4 separate regions of the Homo sapiens genome follow, and regions 2, 3 and 4 are each linked to region 1. The links come from fine-mapping of genetic effects on gene expression. A gene starts in region 1. Each other region holds a variant in brackets. All regions are shown on one strand. Distances are from middle to middle. Region 1 holds the start of DPH5-DT (DPH5 divergent transcript). Region 2 has its middle 76 kb from the start of EXTL2. Region 3 overlaps LOC101928334 (a long non-coding RNA gene). Region 4 overlaps DPH5-DT (DPH5 divergent transcript).

Evidence for each region.
Region 2: its variant is fine-mapped to the expression of DPH5-DT in substantia nigra (GTEx, PIP 0.90).
Region 3: its variant is fine-mapped to the expression of DPH5-DT in subcutaneous fat (GTEx, PIP 0.93).
Region 4: its variant is fine-mapped to the expression of DPH5-DT in spleen (GTEx, PIP above 0.99). The same link has a PIP of 0.9 or more in coronary artery, subcutaneous fat, tibial nerve and transverse colon.

Annotation. Positions count from the first base shown.
Region 1 is chr1:101,023,452-101,028,605 of GRCh38, reverse strand. It overlaps DPH5-DT (DPH5 divergent transcript), which reads right to left and starts at 2,760. Exons shown (of 5, transcript NR_109849.1): 1 at 2,545-2,760. It overlaps DPH5 (diphthamide biosynthesis 5), which reads left to right and starts at 2,822. Exons shown (of 8, transcript NM_015958.3): 1 at 2,822-2,923; 2 at 3,140-3,297. The coding sequence starts at 3,163. RefSeq lists a silencer at 1,040-1,099 and enhancers at 2,891-3,000, 2,093-3,292.
Region 2 is chr1:100,816,313-100,821,466 of GRCh38, reverse strand. No RefSeq gene overlaps it. Among named protein-coding and RNA genes, the nearest start is that of EXTL2, 76 kb to the left of the region's middle. The variant T/A (reference allele first, on the strand shown) is at 2,452.
Region 3 is chr1:101,152,825-101,157,978 of GRCh38, reverse strand. The region is part of intron 1 of LOC101928334 (a long non-coding RNA gene); the gene reads right to left. Among named protein-coding and RNA genes, the nearest start is that of S1PR1-DT, 81 kb to the left of the region's middle. The variant C/AC (reference allele first, on the strand shown) is at 2,446.
Region 4 is chr1:101,077,162-101,082,315 of GRCh38, reverse strand. It overlaps DPH5-DT (DPH5 divergent transcript), which reads right to left. Exons shown (of 5, transcript NR_109849.1): 3 at 4,808-4,953. Among named protein-coding and RNA genes, the nearest start is that of DPH5-DT, 54 kb to the right of the region's middle. RefSeq lists a silencer at 572-651. The variant C/T (reference allele first, on the strand shown) is at 2,390.

The DNA.
Region 1 (5,154 bases):
GATATATTTCCTGAAAGGAGATAAACCACACCTTCTTCAGATTACTTAATCATCCTTTTTGGCAGTGTCCTTGCACTGTGAATCTACCTGAAATTATTATTTTTTTAAATCTGAAAACAAAAAACATAAATGATCAACACATTGGAAAATGTGTTTACCTACTCAATAGCATGCATATGAACTATATGTTTTGTGTGTTGCAAGCCTTTCAATACAAATGACCTTCTAAAGTGGCATGAGACAGGCATATTTATATTTGATATTCCATTAATGATTTTTTTGGTAGTTTTTTAAAACATACCACCCTCTGTATTAATAAAGATGGAAAAATACGTAGCTCAGCTACTAGTGGATAATAATGATTTATTCAACAAACATTTATTTAATACCTATTATGTGCAAGGGATAGTGCTAAACCTAAGATGAGCATACAAATAAGATGCAGTCCCTGAATTAACTAAATCAATAGTTTGGTAAAGAAGAAATACAAATGAACAAATATAAAATCTCATAAATTGGTTAGTAAGTATATGTAGAGTAATACTGTAATGAAGAGGAGAAACCTAAATTAGCTTAGGGGGGTGAGGGTCTCTGGGAAGGCTTCCTGAACTTGGTCTTAAAGAATGGGTATTAGTGATCTAGGCAGGAGAGAATGGGAGACAATATTCTATGATGAGGCAGCAGCGTAGAGGAACAAAGCAGCATGTTGTGGGCAGAGAACTACAAGCAATTCAGTATTGCTGGAGAGAAAGCGAGAAAGCTCATGGTATGGAGTGGAGAGAGATGATGCTAAAAAGGTAGGCAGTGGCCACACCACGAATGATCTTGTGGGGTATGTTAACAAACCTGGACTTTCTCTTGGCCTCAGAAGGATCTAGAAGGGGTGTAATATTTTCAGATTGTTAACTATAACTCTCTGACCCCCTTGAGTGAAGGAGACATTATTATCAGCTACAAGAGTGACAAAATGAGGACCTGAGAATCAAGATGGTGATAGACGGTATGGTTTCTATTGAGATATACAGGCAGACATGACAGACGATGTGGGGGTGACTCCCAAGTGTCTGGCTGGGGTTAATCTGTTGATGACAATACTCTCCTCACCCACCCCCACCCCCGACCCATCCAAGTAGATAATATGGAAAGAAAAGCAAAATGGAAAGGGAAGGTGATGGATTCAACCTTGGATGTGTTGAATATGCTTCCGGGTTATCTAGGTGAAGATTTCCAGCAGAACGTTAACATGAAGCCAAGAGGGAGGAAGTCTGGATAGGAGGCTGAAATTTGAATCTACAAAATATTAGCGATACTAGGAATTCTGAGTGAACAGCCAGTTTTTGTGAGGTTTTGTTTGTTTTACTTAAGCCATTCTAATAGGTGGGTTGTGGTAGCTCATTGTGATTTAAATGTTTATTTTCCTAATGTCTAATGATGTTTAGGATCTTTTTTTGTTTGTTTAAGATCTTTTAAAATAATTATTTGCTATTTGTGTATCTTCTTTGGTGTCTATTCAAATCTTTTGCCCATTTTTAAACAACGAACTGTTTTATTATTGCTTTCTGAGTGCTCCTTATATATTCTCCATACAAGTCCTTCATCAGATACATGCTTTGTAAATATTTTCAGTATGTGGCTTCAAGTCTTTTGAAGAGCATAAATTTTTACTTTGTTGAAGTCCAATTTATCAATTTTTTTCATCACGCTTTTGGTTTAAGAAATATTTGCCTAAATAAGGTCACGAATATTTCCTCCTATGTTTTCTTCTGGTATAGGTTTAGGTTTTCCATTTACATCTACGATCCATTTTGAGTTTTTTGGGGTGTGTATGTGGTGTGAGGAATAGATCAACGTAATGAGAGGGGATAAAACACAGCCACGAAGAGTTTATAGATAGGAAGTGCAAAAAGGTGGATGGAACCTGGGAATGAAAAAAAGCCAAGGTTCAAGGAAGCGGAGTTGGGCATTGTCGGGGAGGCAACAGGAAAATTCTGAGTAACCAACACTGCCTGCTAAGAAAAGCAATGACAGCTGTCTTTTTTAACTTGGATGAGGTCACCTTGGGAAGAGCATTTTCAGTCAAAACAAATCTTCCCTATTTCTAATTACATGTAACCAACAGCTTTATAAGAATTCCCCCGGCAGAAACACTTGAGAGGTCTGAAATCCCTGAGCACTATTAAAGGTCACTTCTTTAGGTACAGGAAGGTCTGGGATTCCTGACACTGAGGGTGACTGAAACATCCTTGGGGCACTCCAGGCATAAGGTCTTGGGGACAAACCCAAGGAGTCATTGCCTTGTTGGGAAATCAGAAGCACACTCACTGCTGGGTTTGCCAATCTCACGCTTCACCAGGAAGACACCTAGTTGAACTACAGGAGGATGAGAAGACTGGAATTAAAATCTGTGCACTCGGCCAAATCCGGGGACAAATCAGGAAAATCCTTCCCAGCCCTCCCTGTTTCTGGAGAGGAGGAGTAGGGCGCAGGGCCCCTCCCGACTCTCTTCCACGTGGCTCCTCTCGAGCGAAGAGCTACTGCACTTACCCAGGCTTAGGAAGCGGGTGTTTAAGCCATGGGTTAGAGGGCTCGTGAGCACGCCCGATCCTTTCCCTGAGGCTATGAAACGGTGGCTCCACGGACTCCTCTCGGCCGACTGACCTTTCGCCGCCCTGCCCCAGCAGCCGGCGGGTTTCTTCAGTGGAGCCGGGCTCTGGTCTCCGCAGCCCAGTAGCCCGCTAGCCCGGCCCCCTCCCGCTAGTCGTAAAGTGCAGTAAAGGCACCAGCATTTTGCGGCACCGTAGGTGAGGCCGGCGGCGTGGGCCTTTTCTCTGCACGGAGCCGGCGCTTTTGCAGTTGCTTCTGCGGAAAGGTGGTAGTTAAGAATTTGTAAAGGCCAGAGAACTACCTACGATTCTCTCAGCGGGTAATTGGCTGCTCCTAGGTTTGTGTAACAAGAGGCAAAACTGGTAGGGTTGTTTAAAACCTCTTATCCCAGTTCTTAAGCGTGACATAAGGTTCCCAAACCCCTCCTTGTGACTTGCCTCTTCTCTTGTGCTACTTTGGTTGTCATCGTGTTCATCACTAGATTTTAGATGTCCTCGGTGTTACTGACGGTTTTTCTGTCCACTTCGTCTTGCAGTCTCTCTTCTCCTCAAGTTTGAAATGCTTTATCTCATCGGGTTGGGCCTGGGAGATGCCAAGGACATCACAGTCAAGGGCCTGGAAGTTGTTAGACGCTGCAGTCGAGTGTATCTGGAAGCCTACACCTCAGTCCTAACTGTAGGGAAGGAAGCCTTGGTAGGTGCTGAGCGTTCCCCAGCCTCCTGGGAAGAAAGCTATCTAACATCTGATTTTCATACACTAAGCTGAACAGAATTTTCAGGTCTGCTTGTTTAAACCCTTTGAAACGCATCCCTTGTTCATTAATGATCTGAGGAGCAGAAGAATGGAAATTTTACACCAACCAAGTGACTTGGAAAATGAAAGGGTGCTTTGTCCTATTTTACAAGTCTAATTTTGTGGCTTTCTCCAGTAAATAGGAAAGCTATTTTATACTCCTGGGGGATAGTTATCAAAACCCCTTATTTCATGAGGTAGTCAAGAAACCCTTTCTGAGTTGAGTGCTAATGAGGAGCTGACACAGCCTTAATGAGTTGGTTATATATATTCAAAAACCAAGCTGAAAGCTTCCCCCTTTGAAGTGTGTCCATAGGGAATGGCGATTGCCTTTTTGTATCCTATCCAGAGAGATCTTATCTTAAATAGACTATCTCCCAATAAGGCTTATACTGATACACTTGTATATATTGAGTGAGCCTGGACTTAATATATAAAAATGTATGAGTATACACTTACATGAGTATACACTAAGTAACCAAAGTATTTGTTAGTATATTATACATTTATAGTTGGCCCTCATAAGGGCCCAGTAAATTTGGGGGAAGGGTCAACTTCAGGTTCATTGTCAAACTCTAAGTAGAATGTAAATCAAAGGATTAATACATATGTTATGGGAGGAGGGAGCAGATTTATTGTCATGTCTTCCAAACAAAAAATAGACTTAAAATTTTTAGGCCTCAGATTACTTTAAAATCTTATAGAAGGAATTAAGAACTGCTACTTGAATTGGCCATGCATTTAAATAAAAGTTGTGTGTAAAGACCAACTTTGATATATACATATATGTGGAGAGAGAGAGAAAATAAGTCTTGCTCTGTTGCCCAGGCTGGGGTGCAATGGTATGATCATGGCTCACTGCAGCCTCAGCCTCCTGGGCTCAAGTATCCTCCCACCTCAACCTCTCGAGTAGCTGAGACTACAGGTGGGTGCCATCATGCCCAGCTAATTTTTTGTATTTTTTGTAGAGACAGGGTTTTGCCACATTGCCCAGGCTGGTCACAAGTTCCTGGACTCTAGTGATCTGCCCACCTCGGCCTCCTAAAGTGCTGGGATTGTATAGGCACAAGCAACCACACCCAGCCTAAGGCCAGCTTTGATTTAAAAAACATTTTTTTTTCTCATTTTTTCACTCTTAGGATAGAACCAAAATATCTAAGCTCGAAATGATGGAAATGTGCGTCTCTAATCAGTGATTAAGGAAAAGTAAAAGGAACTTAACACCTTCAAGAAAAGACAGACAAATAACAAAACAGCAGTTTGATAGAATGAGATATCAGGGGATGGCATAGAGGAAAGTTTGGTTATAGTTTTATCTTTGTTACATGTTAATGTGACCTTGGACAAGTCCTTTAACTTTAGTGTCTTTTTTAAATGGGGTAAAAAACATCTACTTTAGGTGTTCAGCATAATTCTTAGCATAGGTTCTTAACTATGGTATATGGCACAAAACTGTTCAGAAATAGAAATTGTCAATGTTCACATTTCCAAACTTCTCTGAACCTCAGTTTCTTCATTTGTCAAGTGGCAATTACCAGTTGGAGGGTTATGTAGTGTTTTATTGAGATGATGTATATGAAAGTGCTTTGTAAATTTTCAGTGCTAGCTAAATGTTAATTTTGGCTGCTGTTATTTTGTAAAGTATTTTTTTCCAAAGACAAAACTTCTGGAGTTACTACTTACAGAGTCAAGACCTGAAGCTGGACCCAGCCTTACCTACAGTAAATTATGTGTACTTTGTTAAGGTGCTGGAATATC
Region 2 (5,154 bases), 210 kb after region 1:
CAATCAAACATAGATTTGGTCTTTTCACATAGTCCCATATTTCTTGGAGGCTTTATTAGTTTCTTTTCACTCTCGTTTCTCTGATCTTGTCTTCTCACTTTATTTCATTAATTTGATCTTCAATCACTGATATCCTTTCTACCACTTGATCGAATCGGTTATTGAAGCTTGTGTATGCTTCACGAAGTTCTTGTACTGTGGTTTTCAGCTTCATCAGGTCATTGAAGCTCTTCTCTAAACTATTTTTTCTAGTTAGCCATTCATCTAACCTTTTTTCAAGGTTTTTAGCTTCCTTGCAATGGGTTAGAACATGGTCCTTTAGCTCAAAGAAGTTTGTTATTACTGACCTTCTGAAGCCTACTTCTGTCAACTCCTCAAACTCTTTCTCTATCCAGTTTTGTTCCCCTGCTGGCAAGGAGTTGTGTTCCTTTGGAGGAGGAGAGGCGTTCTGGTTTTTGGAATTTTCAGCCTTTCTGCCCTGGTTTCTCCCCATCTTTGTGGTTTTATCTACCTTTGGTCTTTGATGTTGGTGACCTACTGATGGGGATTTTGTGTGGATGTCCTTTTTATTGATGTTGATGCTATTCCTTTTTGTTTGTTACTTTTTCTTCTAACAGACAGGCCCCTCAGCTGCAGATCCACTCCAGACCCTGTTTGCCTGAGTATCACCAGTGGAGGCTGCAGAACAGCAAATATTGCTGCCTGATCCTTCCTCTGTAAGCTTCAGCCCAGAGGAGCACCTGCCTGTATGAGGTGTCTGTTGGCCCCTACTGGGAGATGTCTCCCAGTCAGGCTACACAGGGGTCAGGGACCCACTTAAGGAGGCAGTCTGTCCATTACTGGAGCTTGAATGCCGTGCTTGGAGAACCACTGCTCTCTTCAGAGCTGTCAGGCAGGGACATTTAAGTCTGCAGAAGCTGTCTGCTGCCTTTTGTTCAGATATGCCCTGCCCCAGAGGTGGAATCTAGAGAGGCAGTAGGCCTTGCTGAGCTGCAGGGGGCGCCACCCAATTCAAGCTTCCCTGCAGCTTTGTTTACGCTGCGAGCATAAAACTGCCTATCAAGCCTCAGCAATGGCAGACACCCCTTCCCCCGCCAAGCTCCCGCTTTGCAGGTTGATCTCAGACTGCTGCTGTAGCAGTGGGTAAGTCTCCATGGGTGTGGGACTCACCGAGCCAGGTACAGGAGGGGATCTCCTGGTCTGCCAGTTGTGAAGACTGTGGGAAAAGAGCAGTAATTTGGCAGGAGTGTACTGCTCCTCCAAGTACAGTCACTCTTGGCTTCCCTTGGCTAGGAAAGGGAAATCTCCCGACCCCTTGCACTTCCTGGGTGAGGTGATGCCCCCGCCCTGCTTTGGCTCACCCTCTGTGGGCTGCAACCAATGTCGAACTTGTCCCAATGAGATGAACCAGGTACCTCAGTTGGAAATGCAGAAATCACCCATCTTCTGCATTGATATCACTGGGAGCTGTAGATCGGAAATGTTCCTATCTGGCCATCTTGGAAGTGTCTTCCCAATAAATAAGTCTTGAGCTTAAGAGGATTTAAATAACGAGAGTATATTCTGACCACAACAGAATTAAACCATAAATTAATAATATATCTAAAAAGTATCCTAAATATTTAGCTATTAAACCATATACTTTACATGTACTTTAAATAACTCATGGATCAAAGAAGAAATCATAAGGGAATTTAGAAAATATTTTCAAGTGAATGAAAACAAAAACAAAATCTAGAGAATTCTTCTAAATCAGTGCTTGTAGCAGAAATTTTATATCATTAAATGCTTATATTAGAAAAGAAGATTTAAAAATCAATGATCAAAGTTTCCACCTTTTTTGCTCCTACAAAAAAAGTACATTAAATTCAAATAAAGAAAAAAAGAATCCATAAAGGTAAGAGCAGAAATCACTGAAATAAAAAACAGAGTAACAATAGGGAAAAGCAATGAAACCCAAAGCTAGACCTTTGTAAAGAACAATAGAATTGTTAACTTTCTAGGTCAGTCGTTCTTAACCAGAGGTAATTTTGCCTCCCAGAGGACACTTAATGATGTCTAGAGACATTTTTGTTGCCACAGTTGGGAGGTGGTACTGGAATGTAGAGGTCAGGAAAGCTGCCAAACATCCTACAATGCACGGGGCAGTCTCCCACAACCAAGAATGTCACTAGTACCCTAGTTGCCTCCCCACCCTAATGTCATTAGTATTGATTGTTATTGAGAAACTTCCCTAGTCAGACTCCTGTCAACCCTGAGAATGCAAAGTTGTATTTGTATTTAAATAAATCAATGCAATTTTTCATAATAGCACATAAAAACATCATCTCAATAGATGAATAAAATGCATGTGACACCCACTGTAATTTTTTAAAAATTTGTATTCAACTAGGAATAAAGGGAAACTTTCTTCACCTGAAAATATTTATCTAGGCAAAAGCTACAGCTAAC[T/A]TTATACTTAATAGTGAAAGGAAATTGCTTTCCCTCTAAGTTCAGGAAAAAGGCAAGGATGTTTGCCCTCACCACTTTTATTTAACATTGCACTGCATGTCTTAGCCAATACAATAAGGACAAACAGGGATAAAAACCATATATATTAGTAGGAAAGAAGTAAAACTATTCTCAGATAATATGATCACCTATCTAGAAAATTCTAAGGGCTTTCCAAAAAGCTACTAAAGCTAATAAGTGAATTTAGCAAGATTACAAGAGAAATGCAAAAAGCGATTATATTTCTATAATAACAATGAATTGTTGAAAATTACTGTTTTACCTCCACAAAAAATATTTGCCAAACCCTGCTGTAGACATTATTCTATGTCTTGCTTCTTTTCACATCAAACTTCTTAAAAAAGTAGCACATAATTTCCTTACCTCCCTTTCACTCCTCAAACCAAATGCCATTTGATTTCTGTCCTCAGCCCTCCACCTGAATATGCTTGAATCAAGATTACTAGTGAACACTTAGTTGCCAATCCAAACGATGTTTTTCAGTTTTTTTTTCCTATGTAAGTTATTATCATCATTTGACACTATGGACTATGTCCTCCTTTTTAAAAAATTTTTATTTATGTATTTAATTATTTATTTTATTTTATTTTTATTTCCATAGATTATTGGGGAAAGGTAGTGTTTGGTTACATGAGTACGTTCTTTAGTGGTGATTTGTGAGATTTTGGTGCACCCTTCACCCGAGCAGTACACACTGCACCCTATTTGTAGTCTTTTATCCTTCACCCCCTTCCCACCCTTCCCCCCTGAGTTCCCAAAGTCCATTGTGTCATTCTTATGCCTTTGTATTCTCATAGCTTAGTTCCTACTTATGAGTGAGACTATATGATGTTTGGTTTTCCATTCCTGAGTTACTTCACTAAGAATAATAGTCTCCAATTTCATCCAGGAGGCTGTGAATGCCATTAATTCATTTTTTATGGCTGAGTAGTATTCCATCATATATACATATATGTGTGTATATATATACACACATATATGTACATGTGATATATATGTATATATACATATATGTACATGTGATATATATGTGTGTGTATGTATATGTGATATATATGTGTGTGTATGTATATGTGATATATACATATATGTATATGTGAGATATATATATATATATATATATATATATATATATATATATATATCACAGTTTCTTTATCCACTCATTGATTGATAGGCATTTGGGTTGGTTCCACCTTTTTGCAATTGCGAATTGTGCTGCTATAAACATGAGTGTGCAAGTATCTTTTTCATATAATGACTTCTTTTCCTGTGGATAGATAACCAGTACTGAGATTTTTCCTCTGTGTAGATAACCAGTACTGAGATTGCTCGATCAAATGGTAGTTCTACTTTTAGTTCTTTAAGGAATCTCCACATTGTTTTTCATAGTAGTTGTATCAGTTTACAATCCAATCAGCAGTGTGGAAGTGTTCCCTGCTAACTATATCCATGCCAACATGTACTATTTTTTGATTATGGCAATTCTTGCAGGAGTAAGGTTATCACACTGTGGTTTTGATTTGCATTTCCATGATCATTAGTGATGTTGAGCATTTTTTCATGTGTTTTTTGGCCATTTGTATATCTTCTTTTGAGAATTGTCTATTTATGTCCTTATCCCTTTTTGGTGGGATTGTTTGTTTTTTTCTTGCTGATTTGTTTGAGTTCCTTGTAGATTCTGGATATTAGTCCTTTGTCAGATGTATAGATTGTGAAGATTTTCTCCCACTCTGTGGGTTGTCTGTTTACTCTGCTGACTGTTCCTTTTGCCATGCAAAAGCTCTTTAGTTTAATTAAGTCCCAACTATCTATCTTTGTTTCTATTGCATTTGCTTTTGGGTTATTGGTCATGAAATCCTTGCCTAAGCCAATGTCTAGAAGGGTTTTTCCAATGTTATCTTCTAGAATTTGTAGAGTTTCAGATCTTAGATTTAAGTCCTTGATTTTTGTATAAGGTGAGAGATGAGGATTCAGTTTCATTCTTCTATGTGTGGCTAGCCAATTATCCCAGCACCATTTGTTGAAAAGGGTGTCTTTTCCTCACTTTATGTTTGCTTTGTCAAAGATCAGTTGGCTGTAAGTATTTGGGTTTATTTCTGGGTTCTCTATTCTGTTCCATTGGTCTATGTGTCTATTTTTATACCAATACCATGCAGTTTTGGTGACTATGACCTAATAGCATAGTTTGAAATCAGGTAATGTGCTGCCTCCAGATTTGTTCTTTTTTCTTAGTCTTGCTTTGGCTATGCAGGCTTTGTTTTGGTTCCATATGAATTTTAAAATTGTTTTTATTCTAATTCTGTGAAGGATGATGGTGGTATTTTGATGGGAATTGCATTGAATTTGTATAGTGCTTTTGGCAATATGGTCATTTTCACAATACTGATTCTACCCATTCATGAACATGAGATGTGTTTCCCTTTGTTTGTGTCATCTGTGATTTCTTTCAGCAGTGTTTTGTAGTTTTCCTTGTAGAGATCTTTCACCTCCTTGATTAGGTATATTCCTAAGTATTTACTTATTTATTTATTTATTTTTGCAGCTATTGTAAAAGGGGTTGAGTTCTTGATTTGATTTTCCGCTTGGTCACTGTTGGTGTATAGAACAGCTACAAATTTGTGTACGTTAATTTTGTATCTG
Region 3 (5,154 bases), 130 kb before region 1:
ATAAGGCTTTGTTTACTTAAAAATTATATGAATAGTGCATGGTGTCTATTTTAAAATTCCAAAATGATGTGGAAAAATACAGAGAAAAAGGAAAAGCTATCTGCAATTCTACCATCCAGAAATAAGCATGTTTTAATATTTTATTGAAAGTCTTCTAGGTATCCCTACATATGCAGATATATGTTTTGCACACACACACACACACACACAAAAAGAATTTTACATAAAGTTGGCATGTTATACTTGAAGTTTGATAACCAGTTTTTACTTAATAATAGGTCACAGGCATTGTGATGCACAAACAACTTTCTATTTCAATATTATATATCTATGCAATAATTTTTAATCATTACCTAATATTCCAATAGGGGGATCTATAATAATTTATTAACAAACCTTTCGTTGAAAGAATTATTTTCTCAATTTTCATTGTTATTAACAGTTCCAAGATGAATACTTTGTACATATATCTGTACTGTATTCTGTGACTATCTTCACTAATATGATAATGAAGATTGTATTTTTATTTCCAGTATTTTTTTATCTTTGGTCAGGTTTTAACATTTTGGAGGTCATGTTTATTCTTTGATAAATTGCTGAGTTCATTTTTATATTAGAATACTTTTCTCTTATTGTTAAGAGCTCTTAATATATCCAGGATGCCAACCTTTCCCATCTTTCTTATCATTCATATCTCACAAGTGTTTTTTACAGTTTGTCCCTTACTTTTTAAACTTAATTTTATGATGTTTTGAAGAAGCAAAACCTTTACTGTTTACATAGTCAAATTTATCAATAATTCTTTTTTGGTTTATTTAGCTCTACTGATTTAATCTCCAAACATTCCTACTATCACCAACCTAGATCAGATCCTCTATCGTCTTTTATCCAGATACCTATAACAGTCTGGATTGGTCTCCCTGCTCCCAGTCTCTGTCTTTTGGAATCTGCACTCCATGCAGCTGTCAGAATGTCCTATTTAAAATGAAAATCTGGCCAGGTCATTCTTCTACCTGACTGTTTGTTCAGTGCTGTGTGTTCCAAGTTGGATATTCATACAGCCAATGCTATATGAGGTGGCTCTTCATAAAAATGAAATAAAACTAAAATAAAAACTAACTTCACTAATAAAACTAATAAAAACCGTTCTTAAATTCCAAAATGATGTGGAAAAATGCAGAGAAAAAGGAAACGTCATCTCCAATTCTACCATCAGAAATAAACATGTTTTAATATTTTATTGAAAGTCTGCTGGATATCTCTATATATGCAGATACATAATTTGCACATACCTGCAAAGAATTTCTCCCACAAAGAATGGAACATATTCCTGGAGCATTACTTATTTGTATAGATTTTTGAAGAAATAAAGTACATTATTTTATTTTAAGAAAAACACACGTATATGGAGCAGGATGCATGATCCCTATGAATTTGCAAAATATACTGGAAGACTTCAAAGAAATATTCGTATTTAGGTGAGCATGTTCAAAAGTCAATGGATATGGAGAATAAAGTTTTAAACCTCTTGACATGTGCAACAGAAACTGCCTTGCATTCGACAATATCCATTGCCTTTTCCTCTTGATCACATAGGATTTCCAGCATCCCTTGAAGTTAGGTGTGACCATGTGATTGAATTCTCACTCATAGAATATGGGAGAAATTAATGTGATCATGTAATTTATTGTCCAAACCGAGACACTGTTAAGAGTGAAAGAGGGCACTATTAATTGTTGTGCTGAGAATTCAGGCATAAACTGGGTCATATGATCACCATGGGAAGAACTGATGTGTGCCACTCCAGGGTGGACTCAGGCCTAACTCCTCCCTCTCTTCTCCAGGATGTAGGCAGATGCAGGAGGTCTAGCAGAAGACTCAATACTCTAGGTAGGGCCACAGTCTGGAAGGCTTGTGCTAAACTGTCAGGGAGTGTGAACTCCATTTCTGTTATTTCAAATCATTGTTCATTACAGCATCTTTGCTGGACTGACTTTCCACAATGTGCCCTCTCCCTACATCTCCAGCCTCTCCTTTCATCAGTCTTGAGCTTGAATTTAAACTCTAGCAAACTGAATGCTCATACATTTTTAAATGCCTGTTTATATGTCAGTTTTTCTCATTAGTCAAGGAGCTACTTGATGGTAAAAGCCTAATTATCTTCACAGCACTTACTACCTGGCATAGAATAGACTTCATAAATATCTGTTGAATGAAGAAATGTCTAGCCAAATGAGGAGTAAATCTTTCAATAGAGGTTATTTCACACCTGGAACTAAAAATACCAGAACTATACACCTAATGGAAGATATTATATCTGCAGACAAGTATTCAGATTCAAGATTTTATAAAAACAAGCTACACATTTTAGTAGTCCTAAAATACGAATGCAAAAATATTCTTCCTCTTTGCCTTCAGTGTTTTTTATTTTCACCCCCTTCCCCC[C/AC]GCCATGTGCAAGCACCCACACATTCACTCATTTCCTAGGGGAATATTTGACTTAATTAACAATTGTAGAATAAGTTAGAAAGAAAATAGAGAATTCAGATTTTAAGTTCAGATCCTAATGCTGGCCAATAATCCTTACATGAGGTGCTTTGGCTCAGCAGCGGGATTTACCTCTCCTCCCTCCCAAAGTGATTAAGAGTGTATGTATAATTGACAATGATGCACACTAGTGCATGTTATCAACTCAAGAAAGGGGCTTTGTCGCCTGATTTCCGTTAACCTTAATAGTAGTTAAGCTGCACACACAAAGCATAATGTCCTCATGCTTTAAAAAAGGAGGGGCTTTCATCACCTAGATTATGAAATATTGATTAATTCATGTATGCTCAGACATCCATCTAAAAATGGAATCATTCAATCTGTCATCCTTCTCCCTCATCCACATATAAAAACAAAATGCAATTCTGAGAAGAACAAAAGGAGTGATGAGAGGGTAGGAATTAGGAAGAAGGATAAGAGCAGACAAAGAAACAGGCTGAAAAATAAAACATGTCAAACTATGCTTACAGACAGACACGCCACATCCACACACAATCACACACACACAACAACCACTCTACTAATTAATACAGCTTGCTTTTGTGCCAGATATTAGGGACACATTAATTAGAGAGAAATCTCATTCATCCATTTTTCAGTTCATTAATTATGCATCAATGACAAATTCGTATTGGCCTGCTATAAGACAATCTGTTCCAACAAAGATCTGATGCTGCACATGACACAGCAGTTATGGGGCTTTCCTGCCTCTTTGGATGGTATTTGGGATCTACTCAATTCCTATGTGATGTGTATTTGTGTCCCCTACTGAGTATTCTGTGATTATGGAATGTCCTTTAAGCTGACTACAATTGTTTCTTAGCTAATACTTCATTCATCTCTGTCACAGGCACATTGAGAATCCCATTCAGCTAGACAAAAAGCAATGCAATATTGTGAATGTGCTTAATCCCACTGAATTATATACTTAAAAATGGTTAAAATGGTAAATTTTATATGATGTATATTTACCGCCATAAAGAAAGAAAGAAAAAAATTTTAAACCAAATGAACATGTCTATAAACTTTTAGAAAAGTTAAATTATATGGGGACTATAAAAGTGAAAAAAGAATTTGAAAGTTCTCGAACAGTCTCAGACCTCAGAATGTATTTCATTTTATGCAGAGAATATTATAAGATGAACTTCAGAGCCCAGACAACCTCCAATGTGCTGCCTGCAAAGGGATTTGGGGAAAGAAAGGATGTATGCGTATGAATGGCCTCATCAATAAATATTAACTGAGCATTCAGAAGAGTCTTAGCACTGTACTAGTTAATTTGGAGCTACCTATATTTAATTACATCTGTTCTCCTACCATACCATTCCTTATGTCCCTGGCTTATTTCTTTATCACTGCCTTGATGTCACAGCTCCCTCTGACCCAAGTACAAATAAAGGTGAAAAAATTCACCAGAGTTTGAGTAGTAAGCATATAAAAGTTTCTTTTTCATTGAATAAGTCTCACTTTCGAGGAGTCCTTCAGATCCATGAAGTGCCTCATACTTAATACTTACTACATAATAATACTTACTACAGAGTCACACTCTCAGTGGGCACACAGCAAATGTCAACTGACTCAATGACCTTTTCCCAACCCTTTGTATCAAGAGAGTCAGTATTAAATGTCATCAAATCCTATTTCACAGTGAAAGTTGATTGAACATGCAGTTTAGAGGGGAATTTTTAACTTAACACGTAACTAAAATTACTTCAGCAGTTGCTGTGTAGCATTGATTTGAGGCAAACTTCTGATTAATAAATTGAAACCTTTCAAAATGAAATCTTAAGAAAGAAAAATAGAAAAAATACAATAAAGTTTTTGTTAAATATTTTGCTCTTTGTCTAATTTTTCACTATATAAATACTGCTAATAGATATTTTTATAAAAATAAAAATAAACCATTAATACCCCAAAGAAAGCTGCATACCTTGTTAAAATCTGTTTTGTCACTTTCCCTTAAGCTTTCTTATTGTAAGTATTTATTTTTATCTAGATTTATTTAGTGAACAGACTGAGTTATTTAAATTCTCTTCATCATTGTATCTCCAGTTGTGTCCATATTTATCCAATTCCCCATCTCCAGTGAAGGCTTGTCTGGGTTTAGTTCAGCCTGAAAGAGGCCAAGAAAGAAGACAGGAGTGTCTCTTGCCCCATACTATATAATGTGTGGAACAAGAGGGAAAGCATCAAAGGTTACCTGAAGAAAACACTGCTGAGGTAAGAACATCTCAGGGTCCAAATGCTCATCTAAACAAGGCGGACCTAGGTGGTCAATGAGATCCTTGCTCATTAACTGGGAAACCAAGTGGCTAGAGAATAAAATGCAGGTCCAAATGGCTGGGCCACATTTTTGCATGTGTCTTAGCATCATGTTCTATGAGCAGATCCGGTTTATGTAATGAGGAGATCAAGATTGGGACAGATCATGTTCAAACATCCTCAACATGGGGCTACTAACATTTGTGTAATATTTTAAAGTTTTACGTATAGCAACTCAATGGAACATTGAGTTAACCCTAAGAGGTTGCTATTAATAGTAATCCATATTTAACAGATGAGAATAGGGCAGAGGAATGTGATGCCATTGTAGGACAGCATCTGGGGCTT
Region 4 (5,154 bases), 54 kb before region 1:
GAGTTCATTCAGAAGCCTTGCAAATGGGCTGTGGCCCCTTTTTTTATGTATAATAGGCCCAGCAAGGATATTTAGGACAAAACCAAGTTTTATTTTTAACCAGTTGGCAAGGTCTTCACATTTTAAAGGAGCTCCACACGCTAGATTTACTTAGGCTTATCTGTTCTTTCATCACAATTTCTATAGAAGAATATTAAGGATGCCAGAGAGTTGCCCACTTAGGGAAGGCAGATAGTTTTTTTAAAATAACAAGATAAATCATATGTTGCTTAAAACCTAAATTACAGAGGACATAGGAATTTCCAGTAGACTAAACTTGTCACAGTGACATGAAACAATAATATTTGAGGAAAAAAAAAAAAGAAAAAAAGAGCTTAGTGGAGAAGCAAGTCACTGGGAAAGGGAAAAAGCTTAAAAGTCACGCATATTTAAAGAAAACTAATGTTTTGTCATTGTTTCAGCCACATCTGAGTACATTAGAATTTAACGTACTTAAAAAAATTTTTAAAGGCAAAACATACAACAGTTGGGAGACAAAGTGGTTGTAACCCACTTCCTCCACACCCTCTTGATACTTAACATTGATACTTTGTGTGGTCTTTGGCTTATGCAGTATCCTGTCTCATTATGACTGGACTATTAAGAATCAAGTAACTGTCCCTGGGCGTGGTGGCGGGTGCCTGCAGTTCCAGCTACTCGGGAGGCTGGGGCTGGAGAATCCCTTGAGCTCAGGGGCTCGAATCTAGTCTGGACAACATAGTGAGACCCCCCGTCTCTAGAAAACAAACAAACAACAACCAAAAACACCCAAACACAAACACACAAAAGAATCCAGAATCAAATAATGGTCATCAACAATACAATATCCAACGGTAGTTCCTTTTTTTTTTTAAACGCACAGAACAACCTTTTGAAGGTGCCAAATTTAAAGATGGTAAAGTAACAGAGAAGTAAACTGTAACCTAATTGCTATGGCTTCAGAATAACCCAGTCAAAAGACTTTCAACATGAAAGGAAAGGAATTTAAATTAGTTGCCCTTGAGTTCAATATTTAAAGGTTCTGTATTTTTTTTCCTACTTTAGCAAGGGAACAAATATAGTCCTAGATTGGTCCAGGGGTGTATCTCCCCTTCTCAAAGTAATTTGCAGGTTGGACTACAAAGGAGATATAGTAACCCAATGAAAACAGTAGAAGCAAGACAGGTTCTTGGCATCTGCTTATGCTGCCGCCTGTATTTCTGCCCATGTTGGCTCAGGCCAAACAGTGCAGCATCCAGTGGACGGCTGAGGGACCTGTGTCCTCCACACTTCGCTCACCAGCAGGGAGTCATTATTACTCCTTCACATTGGGTACTTTTGAAGCACTTGATAGAAGCTCTTCTTAATGGAAATACTGAGGATTAAAGAACAATTCTGAGACTCAATCATTCTGAAGGGAAAAAAACACAATTGTCTAAGTCAGGGGAAACCATCTCTGACAGATGTTCTGCTAAAAGAGAAGACAGCTCCTCTTTTCTACATGATTCTCGAGGGCTAAAGGCTGCAGAGAGATACTGCTAATTAATTCCTCCATGTTTTCATGAAGGAAATATTTATCAAACATATCTAGAGCCATATTTTATAAGTAGTGTTTAGTTACTGTGTGTATATTCTAAGCATTTTATTATATAATAATATATACTGTGGAAGTAATAGTATTTACCTCACTGGGTTGTGGAGAGTATCTAACTCAGTGAGTTGTGAGATAATAAACATAAAGTGCTCATAAGCCATAATCCTGGTGCACTGCAATTGCTCAGTAGATGGTCATTCATGTTATTGGTGTTATGGAAGCTGCTAATGTAAAGCTTTATTTCTGGGTCCAGAAAGAAGTTGCCTTTACTGGAGATATCAAAGGCTAAATAGTAACACTGACGTTTAACAGGATCTGGAAAAAAAGAGAAATTTTTGACTCAAAGGGATTTATAAGGTTTCGAACCACCCTAAAACTTAAGATTTCTGGTATGCTGTGGAATTCCTGAAGTTTGTGAGAGACTTGCACTTTCAGGAATTTAGGCTTTGATGTTGAATTAGGAAATTTGAATCCTGGCTCCATTACTTATTCTTTGTATACTTTAGCTCTCTTATGTGTAAAATGAGGCTAATAATTCTACCTACACGTCAGAGTTTTTGAGAGAACAATATATGTAAATACTTAAAACAGTGCTTGGTACTTAGCTAGACATATCTCAAATCACTACCATCATGATCACCAAATGGCAGAATTGACAAATGGGATTTGTGTCTTGCTGCCTCAGATTATCTTTGATTTTCCATACTCTTTGATGTCTAAAATAATTTTGATTCCTATTATTCTATAGCTAAATATTCTAACATGAGGCAATTACTA[C/T]CCTTTCTGTTTCTAAATTGGAAGGATATCTTACAACACAATATTGCAAGGAAAATAACCACACATTGGTAGGTTCAAAGAAAAGAAGAGGAGAAACCATTAGGAAATGAAGGCACCTTGTCCATCTTAGGGGATGCTCACTCCTATCCTTCATTTTGCTTCTATCAGCTCTCAGTTTTCCCTCCTTCTCCATTGCGCCTCCAGTCTTAGTCTACATGACATTTAAGCCAAAAGTCATTCATAACATTTGTTTGTTTGTTTGTTTGTTCTTGAGAGACTCCTGGTGGCTTAGTTTGCCCTCTAATAGATTGCTATGGTAACACTTGTTTCCGTTTGTCTACCACTCTCCCTGCATCCTCTTAACTCCAAATTCTGATTTAAAAAAAAAAAAAAAGGAACCACCTGTTTCCTGAGCACAGAATTAGATTATTGAATCAAGCTGGCTTACACAGATCCTTCGAATTTGAGTCTTAAGTGGAGGTGCCTTGGGGTGCTCTGGGTCAAAGAGTTCATGAGTTCTCAATGCTCGAGTCCTCAGAATTGTCCTGGTTTCTAACCTCCTGAAGCTTGCTTGTTCAGTGATACCTTTCTGTGAGCTACTCTAATAATTCTCGTGTTTAAGATGGTCTCTGTTGCATACGCACCTTTCTGCTTTTTGCAACCAAAAAAGAAAAAAAACCTATGTGGCTGTGTGGCTGAGTTCCCTTGGGGGAATTTAATCAGCCATCAGCTTTGGTCAACTAGGGGCTTACACAAGACAAATTAATCTGGAGGAGATGTTAAGGGTGGTAAGTAATTTGATATATCCATAACAGGGGAAAATGGTAGTTATAAGAAAAGAATCAGACTTGTGTCTACATCTACTACAGTCTTAGCAGAATATAACAAACCCCATTTAATTAAATTCCATTTAAGTCAATAGGCATTACAATTAGGCATTCACTAGATAAGCACTTGGGGGATATTTAGACGGATAAGGCTAAAATTTTGCTCTCAAGTAATGGCTAGTCTGGGGGAAGACTACATGTACACATATAAGTATAATACAAGGCAAAATATGCTGACTACTGTGATAAGATCAAATAAAAACACTTTGGGAGGCCGAAGCGGGCGGATCACGAGGTTAGGAGATTGAGACCATCCTGGCTAACACGGTGAAACCCCGTCTCTACTAAAAATACAAAAAATTAGCCAGGCGTGGTGGCGGGCGCCTGTAGTCCCAGCTACTCGGGAGGCTGAGGCAGGAGAATGGCGTGAACCCGGGAGGCGGAGCTTGCAGTGAGCCGAGATGGTGCCACTGCACTCCAGCCTGGGCAACAGAGCGAGACTCTGTCTCAAAAAAATAAATAAATAAATAAATAAATAAATAAATAAATAAATAAAAACATAGAGGAAAGAACAATTAATTTGGGTTATAGCATTAGCCAAACAGGTCAGCCTGCTGAAAGATTCAAATAGCATGTTGCAAGCCACCAATACAAAGGAGAGAAGAAGCCCTTTTAAAGAGCTGTGGCATTTTGAGATCTTGAGTAACATACAAATGGAAAAAGACTCCTCAGGTTTGTAGGCACTTGAGAAATATTGCTTTCTCACTTCTTACCTCATTTAAGTACAGGTCTAAGTAAAGGTCTGTAGAGGCAAAAATCCTTTCTTACCAATAAGTGAGTCCTTCCCTAACCCTAGTCTTGGGCTGGTAGGAAGTATCCCTATTCAGTGTCCCATTTCCTCACCAAGAGTGTTTTCCATTCCTGAGTTAGTTCAACAAGGGTAAAATCTGGATTAATGGCCCCCACGTCTTTGAAGTCAAGAAATGTACATTATTTTTTCCCAGATCTTAAATCTGGTGACTCAGCACAAATTCTAGCCTTGCATGTATCCCTCAACCAGACCGAGTATCCATTGCATGAACAATGACCCACGGACACCAGTGTAACCCCTGCCTCCTCACCTCCTGCACTGGCCCTGCAGAACTGAGATTCTGCCTTTTACGTAGCCTTTTTGCCTGAGAACAAGTTAGCCTAATTCTTGGCAGTCTTCTCTCTGGTTATGGCAGTGGAGTCTCTACCATGTGTTTTAAACCCTAGTTCAACAAGCAATTCTGTTAGAACCCGACTAATATCCTCCTTACAATGGAGCAGGTGTTGGCAAACTTCTTTAAAGAGCCAGATAGTGTATATTCTAGGCTTTGAGGGCCAGAAGGTTTCTGTCACAAGTATTCTGGCATTTTAAGTCCTAAAGCAGCCATAGACCACATTTAAATGAATGGGTGGAGCAGTAGTCTAATAAAACTTCACTTATAAAAAGAGGCAATGATTTGGCCCTTGAGTATAGTTTGAAGACCCCCTGCTTTTCAGCATCACTGTTCATGCATTCAGAATTCCTTATTCCCATGACCCATCTGTTTGCGAGAAAGCTCACCTTAATCTTTCCCAATCCTCCTTTATTTGCAAAGGTGTAGGCTTGCCCATCTCAGTTACAATATTCAAGACGTCCATGTACCTTACTTCAGTTCCTGGTATACTCCAGAGCCCACATGAACATTTATGCATACCCTATCATTCCATCTAGAGCCAAAGTAAAAAAAGAGAAGCGAGAAGTAGTGGTATGTATATAGTTATTAGCAGTTTGAGGGAAAAGAAAACAAAACAAAACCAAACAAAAACAGAAAATAGCCTAAAAGAAGTAACTGTTGCTTCTGGAACAAGAGAAAAGGAGAAAAGTTATAAGACAACAATCTGTTATATTCTGCAGGGAGCAGAGATACC